2 linked regions of the Homo sapiens genome follow. The protein of the gene in region 2 interacts with the protein of the main gene of each other region in a biochemical or structural test. Each region holds a gene or a part of one and is shown on either strand. Other genes may lie near its edges.

The links. Proteins that work in one complex are often made in the same cells at the same time.
Region 1: the proteins of TLR4 (region 2) and TNC form a complex in vitro, tested with the Homo sapiens proteins (one study listed by IntAct).

What each region holds. Positions count from the first base shown.
Region 1 is NC_000009.12:115,106,991-115,112,122, reverse strand, and holds part of TNC (tenascin isoform 1 precursor), read left to right. Parts: intron 1-571; exon of another isoform or gene 572-694; intron 695-5,132. UniProt on the Homo sapiens protein: Extracellular matrix protein implicated in guidance of migrating neurons as well as axons during development, synaptic plasticity as well as neuronal regeneration. Promotes neurite outgrowth from cortical neurons grown on a monolayer of astrocytes.
Region 2 is NC_000009.12:117,720,963-117,726,427, forward strand, and holds the end of TLR4 (toll-like receptor 4 isoform A precursor), read left to right. Parts: 3' UTR 1-3,773; downstream 3,774-5,465.

The DNA of each region.
Region 1 (5,132 bases), 2.6 Mb from region 2:
CTTATTCTCTCAACAGCCTTAACTCACACGGACCGAGCCAAGGATGACTAGTATCTCCGTATTCATTATCTATTACTGCATACCAAATTACTTTAAATCAACACTCATTTATTATCTCATGGTTTCTAGAGGTCTAAGCACAGCTTAGTTGGATTTTCTGCCTCATGGTCTCTCATGAGGTTATTGTCTGTGTTGGACAGGGTTGATGTCTCATCTAAAGGCTGAATTGGGGGATGATTAGCTTCCAAGCTTGTTGATGTGGTTGTTGGCTGGACTCCATTTCTTGAGAGATATTGAACTGAGGGCCTCAGTTCCTTCAAAGCTGTTGGTCCAAGGCTACCCTCAGTTCCTTGCCACATGGGCTTCTCCAACAAGGCCATTTACATTAACAAAGCCAATGAGAAAGAGAGTTACCGGGCATGGTCGCTCACACCTCTTAATCCCAGCACTTTGGGAGCCCGAGGCGGGTGGATCACTTGAGGTTAGGAGTTCGAGACCAGCCTGGCCAATATGCTGAAACCCCGTATCTACTAAAAATACAAAAAAATTAGCCTGGCATGGTGGTGGGCACCTGTAATCCCAGCTACTCAGGAAGCTGAAGCAGGAGAATCACTTGAACTTGGGAGTCGTAGGTTGCAGTGAGCCAAGATCGAGCCATTCCACTCCAGCCTGTGCAACAAGAGCGAGATTCCATCTCAAAAAAAAAAAAAAAAAAAAAAAAAAGAGAGAGAGAGAGAAAGTCTATAAGCAAGAGGCACATCACAATCCTGTGTAACCTAATCATGGAAGGGATATTCCATCACCTTAGTCATATTCTGTTTGTTAGAAGAAAGTCACTGGGCCATCCCACACTCAAGGGGAGGTAATTGCACACGTATGAGAATGCCGGGAGGCAGTATCAATGGGGCCACCTTAGAGTCTGCCTGCCACAGCCTCCAGCACTCCAGTGTCACCAATTTCTGGCAACCTCTTATCAATGACAAGTTCACTCAACCCTTCAGTACCCTCACTGATGAGTAATAAAAAAATTGATCGAGACCATGGTGAAACCCCGTCTCTACTAAAAATACAAAAAATTAGCTGGGTGTGGTGGCGGGCACCTGTAGTCCCAGCTACTCAGGAGGCTGAGGCAGGAGACTGGCGTGAACCTGGGAGGCGGAGCTTGCAGTTAGCCGAGATCACACCACTGCACTCCAGCCTGGGCAACACAGTGAGACTCTGTCTCAAAAAAAAAAAAAAAAAAATTCTGGCAGCCACTAAAGTGGACTAGTTTTTATTTAACATCCTCCCATGTATATAGTGGAGCCAAGTGTTTTGATTAGTTGTTTTAACTCATTGGTTAGCCATAATTTCTCTTGAATTTCACCCCAGGGAGGGGCCTTTCACGGCAATGATTCCAAATGTATTTTATTCTAAAGCAAGACAGTCAGTGTGACCAAAACTAAAACTCATCCATTGTTCCTCCCTCAATCTATTCCTCTCAGCAGATATAATGAATAGTAACATCTTCGATTAATTCTTTTTTCTTTACTAACCCCACACACAAAATGTTGTAGTCTCTACTGCCTTGACAAGCAAATCTGTTCACTGCCTCCCCACTTTCTTGATCACCACCCCCTGCCCCACCTCCATTACCCCTGTAGTTCAGATCTTAGCATCTCACAGATGGGCCACTGCAACAGCTTTCCCACTGGCCCCCAGCAACCCAGCCTTCCCCTTCTTCAACCTGAGACATAGAGGTTAACATTCCTGGGCCTCAAGATTTCCAAATGCTTTTCTTCTGCCTGCAAAAAAGTCCAGATATTCTGACATTCAAGATTCTCCATGATCTTGCTTCTGGTCTCTAAACAGATCCTGTACTTCAGCTGTCATTCATACTGTTCACATCAACCCTTTTATTCTTTTTATATCCTTGTAAATGCCATTCCCTCGTGCCTAGAATATCCTTTTTTATGTTTTTCACCTATTCATATTTTTCTCTCAAAATTCAGTTCAGGCACCACTTCCTCCAGGTAAATTAGATGCCCTTTTACTGTCATCTCATTCTACCTATGTTTCTTTTTTTAAATCTATCATCTCCTTTATCATCCTGGAATGGCCTGTCTGCCCCTCTTGACAATATAGTTCCTAAAAGAAAAAATTGTATCTGGTTTATCTGAAACCTAGCACAACTGGAATAAAGTTAATCTTTAGCAATTAATAGGAGTCCTTGCTGTGTCCCAGATTTGGACATCCTCTTCCTTAGCAGTTTGCTCAGAAAGCCCAGAGCTTGAAGTTGTTTTCACGCTTCACCCACTGGCTTGCAAGTATGCAGTGTGATGACACAACATGTGATAGGAGGAAACCATCCCAGCCCTAGGACAGGAAACTGTCTCAGGACACAGACCTCAAGGAATGTGTTTGCTTTCAGAGGTGGCCTTCAGGATAAAAACACAAATTGCTTTGGATTTGGAAAAACCAGTACCAAGGACAGAGGAGTCCTGTCTGGGGATTTGAGGCTGAGTCACAAGAGATAGCTGAAAATCTGGAGGTTATAACAAAGATTAGTCAACAACTAATAGGAGGAAAGAACAGGCTCAAGGGTGGGATGGAGACAAAGAGCTCTCTATCTTAGGACATGGAGAAGCTCACAGCCCACAAGAAGAAATGAATAATGGTTAAGAGTATGACTTTGGCATAAGAATCCTCTGGGTTTGAGAGGTATTTGCTTGCTATGTGATCTTGGCCAAGTTACTTAGCTTCTTTAAGCTAATTTCTTCTTATCCATATTAAAAGCAAAGTAGTAGCACCTAGTTTAAAGTTTATTGTGATGATTAAATGATGTAGTTCATGAACACTGCTTAGCACAGAAACTGGCATTCAATATAAATGTTTTGTTGTTGTCATTGTTTTGTTACCTGTTGATCAAATAGTTCTTGATGATAAGATCCCACTAGAGAAGCAGTTCCCAAAAGTGTGTCATGTGGAAAAGCATTCTCATGGGAATCACCTAAAAAAGGGTTTTGTGGCCAAATGAGTTTGGGAAACACTTGGTACTCTTCTGTTCTTGGAAATGCACAGCTCATATGTCCATTCAATACATAGTTTTAGGGCTGGTGATACAATAGAAAGCAATACAGTCAAGATCCTTTTATTCATGGTGTTTACATTATGGTGGCATATCTTAGTTTGTACAAGCTGCTACAACAAAATACCATAAACTGAGTGACTTACAAACAACAGAAATTACTTTCTCACAGTTCTGGAGGCTGGGAAGTCCAAGATCAAGATGGCACCTTATATGTCCTCACATGGCAGAAGACATAAGGCAGCTCTATGGGGTCTCTTTTAATAAGGGCACAAATTCTATTTATGAAGCCTCTGCCCTCATGATCTAAGTACCTCCCAAAGACTCTGCCAACTAATATTGTCACACTGGTGATTATGTTCCAATGTGTGGATTTTGAGGGAACACAAACATTCAGACCATAGCAGGGGGAAGGCAGACAATAAAAAGGAATCACATAAACTTATAGCACAATTTCAGGTAGTGATATTTGCTAAGAAGAAAGACAAAACAAGGTAAGGGCATAAACAATGACTGGTGGTGAGAGGAGTGCTCTTTTAGATGGGGTGAGAGGTGAATGTGCCATTGTGCAGATGTCTGAATGAAATGAGAGAAGGAGCTCTGTAGGCAATGGCTAGGAGTTTGAATTTCATTCTGAGTGTGGTTAGAAGCCAATGGATGGTTCAGGGAAGTAGAGTGCATCATCTGAGATATCTTGCTGTAATTAATCTGTTCAACTTTCGTTAGCCCAGTATCTCCAAACATACCTGACCATAGGACATCTACCTAAAAACATCTTGCAACGTAGTCTGGGAAATTCTTCACTGGAGCACAAGGCTTCATAGATTTTAAAGGGACTGCAAATTTGCTCTTGTTCATCTAGATCTGCACTAAAAATCCAAACATACTGCTTGGGACAAAATAGGCATGCCCAGGAAGGAAAACCTAGCTCTAGAGGTAGAGACAAGCAGGATGTCATCCTAATTAGCAGCTCTTTTTGGCAAAGACAATCAATGAGCACAGCCAGGCCTCAGCAGATTCTGGAAGCCCATTTGATGCCAACGGAAACTCGCCAATATCTACCCAAGGCTAATAAGTGTTTGCAAACAGTACACCTTGGCTTAAGTATTCTCCAAAAAGGAAGTACATAAAACTTGAGATCCAGCCAGAGGTTCTGGGAGAAAAACAGAGGTCAAATATTTTGGTGCTTACATGTGCACAGCCACCAAAGAGCTGCTGAAGGTCTAGGAAATGGAAAGTGAGTTCATCCACTTGAATGCTGATCTCTTTCTTTATGGAGCAGTAAAAATTTAAGTTTTTACCTTATCTGAACTAAGAAAATTCCTTTAGGAGTCAGCCCAGTGTAGCTCAATGTAGTTGAAAGCAGACATTTTAGAACCACAAATAAATCAGGATTCAAAAGCTGGCTCTGCCTCTTAAGCCAGTCATGGAAACTCCCTGAGTCTCAAATTAATTTTCAAATAAGCATAATAATACCTAACTCACCAGGTTGTCATGACAAATGACAAGATAAATGATAGCATGAATAAAAAGCATTTAGTGTAAGATTTGGCATAAAAATGTATATAATAGGCACTCAACAAAATGTTAGTTTCCTTATTGTTCAATTCAATCTGTATTTAGTTTCATAATAGAAGCTGTCATTTATTGAATAACTACTATATTCCAGCAGAGGTTAGCAAACCATAGGGTGGCAGCCTATTTTTGTAAATAAAGTTTTATTGGAACACAGCCATGCTCATTTGTTTGTGTATTATCTATAGCTGCTGCCTCTACAATAGCAGAGTTGAATAGTTGTGACTGAAATCATCTAACTGCAAAGCTTTACATATTTTCTATTTGGTCATTTAAGGAAATGTTTACTGATCCCTTCCAGTCAACCTTACTAAATTTTTATACTTACTTTCCAGTCACCTTAACCTAACAAGGTGGATATTATCATACTTGTGTATATAGAGATTGAAGCAGAAAAAAAAAATCATCTAGTAAGTTCCCCTCCAAAAACATAATGCCAAACTCTATACCTAAAAGAAGTTCAGAATAATGATTAAAAGTTATTCATTTG
Region 2 (5,465 bases):
AGACACTATATAAAAATATAGAGTTAAAAAAACTATTTAAAAAAAAGACAACTTCATGTCTCTACTCTGACTTCATTCTTTTTAAGATGGGTAACAAAGACTCTCTTCAAGGTTAGAAAATTTTATTTTAATTTTTATAGATTTAGAGAGTGCAAATGCAGTTTTGTTACATGAATATATTGCATAATGGTTTAGTCTGGGCTGTTAGCGTAACCATCAACTGAACAGTGTACTTTGTACCTATTAGGTACTTTCTCATCCCTTAACCCCTTCCCACCTTTCTGAGTCCTCAATGTCTGTTATTTCATTCTCCATGTCCATGTCTACAAATTATTTAGTTTCCACTCATAAGTGAGAGCATGGATGGAACTGGAGAAGAGTATTTTCTATCCCAAGATCGGTTCCTTGATCTTGTGTCTCCAAATCACTTGCTCTCTCTCTTACATCTTTTCTATCTTCTTCTAGCCTCTTTTTGCAAACTTCATTTTGACAAAGAATTCCAGGCAGTCTACAGCTGATTTTATTTCAATACAACGATTAAAATGGAAACCATATATGAAGATGACAAAGTTGAGCAGGTCCCAAACTCTCACTTTTAAACAAATGCTTGGCTTAAGAATCACTTAATGACTTTCATTCTGCTATCTATGTGTCTGTGTATCTAGGTACTAATTATCTATCTTTATGATCTTTATTGCTAGAAATTCTGGTTCAATATCAGAGGTTAGTCCTAAGGAATTTATATTTTAAAATATTCTCCCAGTTTTCGTGCACAGACAGATTTGGGAATTACTGTTATAATGGAAAATGGAGAATAACCACCCACATTTAATATGGTTATTGGTTTTGTTCTTGAGATTTATTGCTAAGATTCATGATAGCCCAGGCAAGGTCAGATAATGTATTTTTATTTTACACTGTATAGTTGATTCTTCTCAATCCCACTAGATCAGACTCTTTGGGATACTAGGATTGGCCTATTTGATGGTGAGCTCACTACATCCATTTAGATGTTGTGTCCATGCAATCATTTTAGTTCTCCTAGTTTCTACCTATCACGTTGTCATTTTCCCTTCTTTATCATCCTGGGTAGCTGAGACCCCACATAAATATATACCAGAAAAATGTTGTGGTCTTTTCTAAACTCTCTGAGGCATCTGTTGTCAATGTGATGTTGTTTTTTGTTTCCAGTCCAAAATATATCAAAGTAAAATTTAACTCCACTTTTGCTAAGTATTCATCTTGCCTTGAGTACTAAGATTCCAAAAATGACTTTCCCCTCTGAAAAACACAGGATTTCCTTGCGAAAACTTGCTGGGCCACTGCCAATCTTCCCAGAAACTCCTTTTTCCTTATCGTTGAGGGGAATTGGGGAAGTGATCACTGACGGTTGAAATTCAGTAGTTTTGGTCTTTAAGCTGAGACCCTGAGTCTTCTGAGGAGTCTACTGCTCCCCAGTGGGAAACACCTGCTGTCAAAATTTTCCTGCTTGCAAAGAGCACTTTTGAAATTAATGGCAGGGGATGAATATCTGGCTAGTGCTGTGCTCAGCTGAGTTATTAATAGGGCCTTCTGAGTCCTCTCTACACATCATCTTTGGCTGAATTAGCTGTGGTTTCAGCACCTGAGAGTCTAGCACCACTAAAGGCAGGGAATACCTTTGCCAGTTTCTGGCATATTAACAGCTGAGATCAGATAAGTGAACAGCGATAGAGGTAGTGAGGTTTAGGATTCAGGTCTGCCACCGGGAGCGCACCTCTGGGCTCAGGTCTCTCATTTGTAAAATGGGACATTTAGGTCAGATCAGCATTTTCAAAAGTGTGACATGTTAGTAAATAAGATGATTTTATGTGGTTGACAGATGAATGTATTACCTTTAGTGGTTATATGTTTATTTTCATGGTTACTTTTATTTATAATAAATTTTGTGACTAGCTAAGAATCAATTATCTCTTTAAAATATATTTAAGTTTAAAATGTGGGCCAACTTAGGAAAAAAACGGGATGAAATGAATTATATAAAAGGTATGCAGATTTGGAAAAATTTTGAAGGTGTCACAAGAAAGATTGGCAGTCAGAAAGGAATGAACCAAACGGCTGCTGAGGGTCAGGCCAGCTCTCTGACATTCTAGCATGTTCACATCTCCAGGGCTGTTTCCTTACCTATAAATTGTGGCAATTGGAGTAAATGTCCATTCCAGGAATTCTATTCTATGATTAGAGGTGTAACTTCATCATCCAGATTTTCCAGCATCCTTAACATGTGGTTTTAGCGTTCTAAACCTGATGATGCTATATCAAAACGGGAGACTCATTCGTCAAGTCATGATGTATCCATGTATTTATAATATTTCCCATGTTCCCTCATTTCTGAAAAGGATTAAGCTATCAACCCCATTGAGTTATAGGTGAAAGGCTGTGGAAACAAGACATTGATAGTGAAATGGCTCCACCACTAACAGGCTGTTGAACAAAGGCAAATCTCTTGATCTCTTTGCTCTTTGGTCTCTGTTTATCTATGAGATAACGTTATTTTTACGCTGTCTTCTGTGAAAGTTTTGAGAATGAAATGAGACAGAGCCTCCAATAAAATTTAGGGAAGTGCTACATAAATGCAAGGAGTTATTATGATAACAGATTGAAAACTCCTCCAAGGAGGAGTTTCTCTTTTGCCCCATGTTATAAACTCAAGAATATCTTCCATTTTGCCTACATATTCCAAAAGCTTTTAAATTAAGCTATATGTCATTCTTACAGGAGTCTCCTCTATTTCAGCAATGTGTATACTTGGTCAGTTTTAATTATCTTAAAGGAGAAGAATACAGTTTCTCTAAACTCAAGCACTTTTGTGGACTAATCCTTGCAATTATTCTTTCTTCTTTCCCATACTTGACATTTAAAGTGATATCTCCCAGGCTCCTACACTGTTAGTCACAGAGGTACCATTCGACCCCTTGTGCCTCTTACCATATGTGAATGCTTGTCAGTTGAGAGTAAACTTTCTTCATAAATTTCACAGTTGTGGATTGATAAAAACAGAGAACTCTGGTTCCTCATTCCTTCCTGCTTTCTTTCTTGAAATGCCATTCATGATGGTCCCTTATATCACTATAGGGCTGCTATCATCCTTCATCCTTATGCCACTGCAAATAGCAACCAACAGTGTCCTTAGTGCCAGCACTCCCAGGCATGCCCCTTTCCAAGCAGCAGGGTCAAGCCGCTCCCTTCCTGAGCTGTGGCATCTGTCTCTAAATCATGCTTCCTCCTTGCCTGCTGCAGGCCCTTGTCTCTGCCCTTTACTTTTTCTGGCTCTTGCCACGGTTTTGAATAAAACTCTTCCAAATATCTGAAGCTCAATTCTGTTGCCATTCTAAGCTCTCTAAATGTCACCACAATCTTCCTTCCTTTGCATTTTCTTATTGTGCACTAAGTTAGTTCTTGCTTAGTAAGTCTTGTCTTTCTCTCTGCTTTGACCTGTCAGTATTCCAACTTCCTTATTTTTTGATGTTCATTTTCTCCTTGCTCTCTTTCTTCCTTTCTTGTCTGTGAACTCCATTAACCGCTTCTGCATGTGACCATTAATGTGCCTGTCTTTCTTCTCATGTATTAGAGAGAACAAAAGCTTTGGGAATCAGACAGATCTGTGTTCTGATCCTGTCTTATGGTATCTGTCTTGTTTGTCTCGGCTTAAAATGGGGATAATATCTACCTCTCAGTTTTGTTGGCAGTTCAGTACACGGAAATAAAGTTCTCACTTTCTTTTTTCTCCTTGAGAGTGTTCTTTATTTTACTCATCTGGCCATCTAATATTTATGAAGAAGCTACTCTGTGGTTGAAAAGGCACATGAAGCTGCAGAAGTAAATGACCAAGAAGTGCCCTCAAAGTTACGGAGTTCAGATTCATTTTGGCAAGAGAGGCATGTCAATACACACACACACACACACACACACACACACACACACACACACACAATGTTATGCCAAAATGCAGGGTGGTGGGGAGTGGAGGGTTGTTCTTCCTAGAAGCAATCAGAGAAGGCTTTACAGAGGAGGGCCCATTTGAGCTGGAAATTGTAAAAGAACAGCTCTGCAGATGGATCTTTAAATTCTTAACCTAAAAGAAGAGCAAAAATGTAAATGATAAATCTGGGAAGTAATAAGTAGAAGACCATGTATAGCAGAGTTGAGGAAAGAAACAATATAGTATAAATACTGAATTACATGAAAGCTAATAGTTAATTGGCATCAGTTGACCCTGACAAAGACATTTATCTGGACTATGTCTCAATTTGCTTATCTGTCAGTTAAGGATGATATATTAAATGAGTGCTTATACAAACAAAGTGCTTAAAACAGTGCAAGGCACTTCACAGTCATCAAAAATGCTAATTTTTTGTGTGCTTTCATTATGAAATGGGGAGCATACAGCCCGACAGAAGCCTAGGTAATGTCTCAGCATTAAGCCCACTGGTTTGTGGTGCCTTGCATTTAGGAGGCCCAAGTCCTTATCCTGGTGTTGATACAAACTTCCTGTGTGACACTGGGAAGCTATAACTCAGTCTTGACATAATACAACTTGTTCTTCGGCTTCAAAAACTTTCCCAGAATTGGAGTGACCCTACCCTCCCTTTCAAGAAACAGACAAACATCCTAGAATGTTACAACATAAGGGTTGAAGAAGCTGTTGTTAAGTGATCATCTTGTTACCACAAAATTGTTAAACTGCATAACAGAGTTATGCAATTTCTTCTTCCCCTATTTTTTATTTTATTTTTCCATAAGGTATTGGTATTTCATTACATGAGTAAGTTCTTTAGTGGTGACTTGTGAAATTTTGGTGCACCCGTCACCCAAGCAATATACACTGCACCATATTTGTAGTCTGTTATCCCTCTCCCTCTTGCCACTCACAGCATTTGGGGTGTCTTCTGGGTCCTGCAGGAGCAGTCCACTTCCTTGAGAGGTTTTGTGGGTCCTCTTGGGAATGTTGGTTTGTTCTTGCAGTCAATTTGGAGCTAAAATTCACAATGCAAGCCTCTGGATGCTGCTCTGTCTGGAGCTGCAATCTAGTCCTGACTCCTCTCTGCCATGATCCCCTCCATACACCTTCTTCTCTTATTTTTATGCCAATGAGTGAAGGCCTCAACCTGGCCTTCCCTGCCTCTTAGTTAGCCTCCTGTTCTGCCTGATGTCACAAGGATAGTGAGAGGCATGGTCTGGATTTGAACCAGATCTACCTGTTCCCACTGCACCATGCTGACTTTGTATGAAGAAGCCACCAGGCTAGTGGTGGTGGTGGTGGTAGTAGCAGTAGTGAAATTCTATTGATAATACTACCTCTACCAATAATAATAAAAAAGGGGAGAGATGGAGGAAAAGGGGTGGAGAATCAAGTGAGGAATCAACTGGAGCAGTTCTACTTGATTCTGTTTTATGTTTTGGGTTTCTTGTTGACGGTTTAGCTT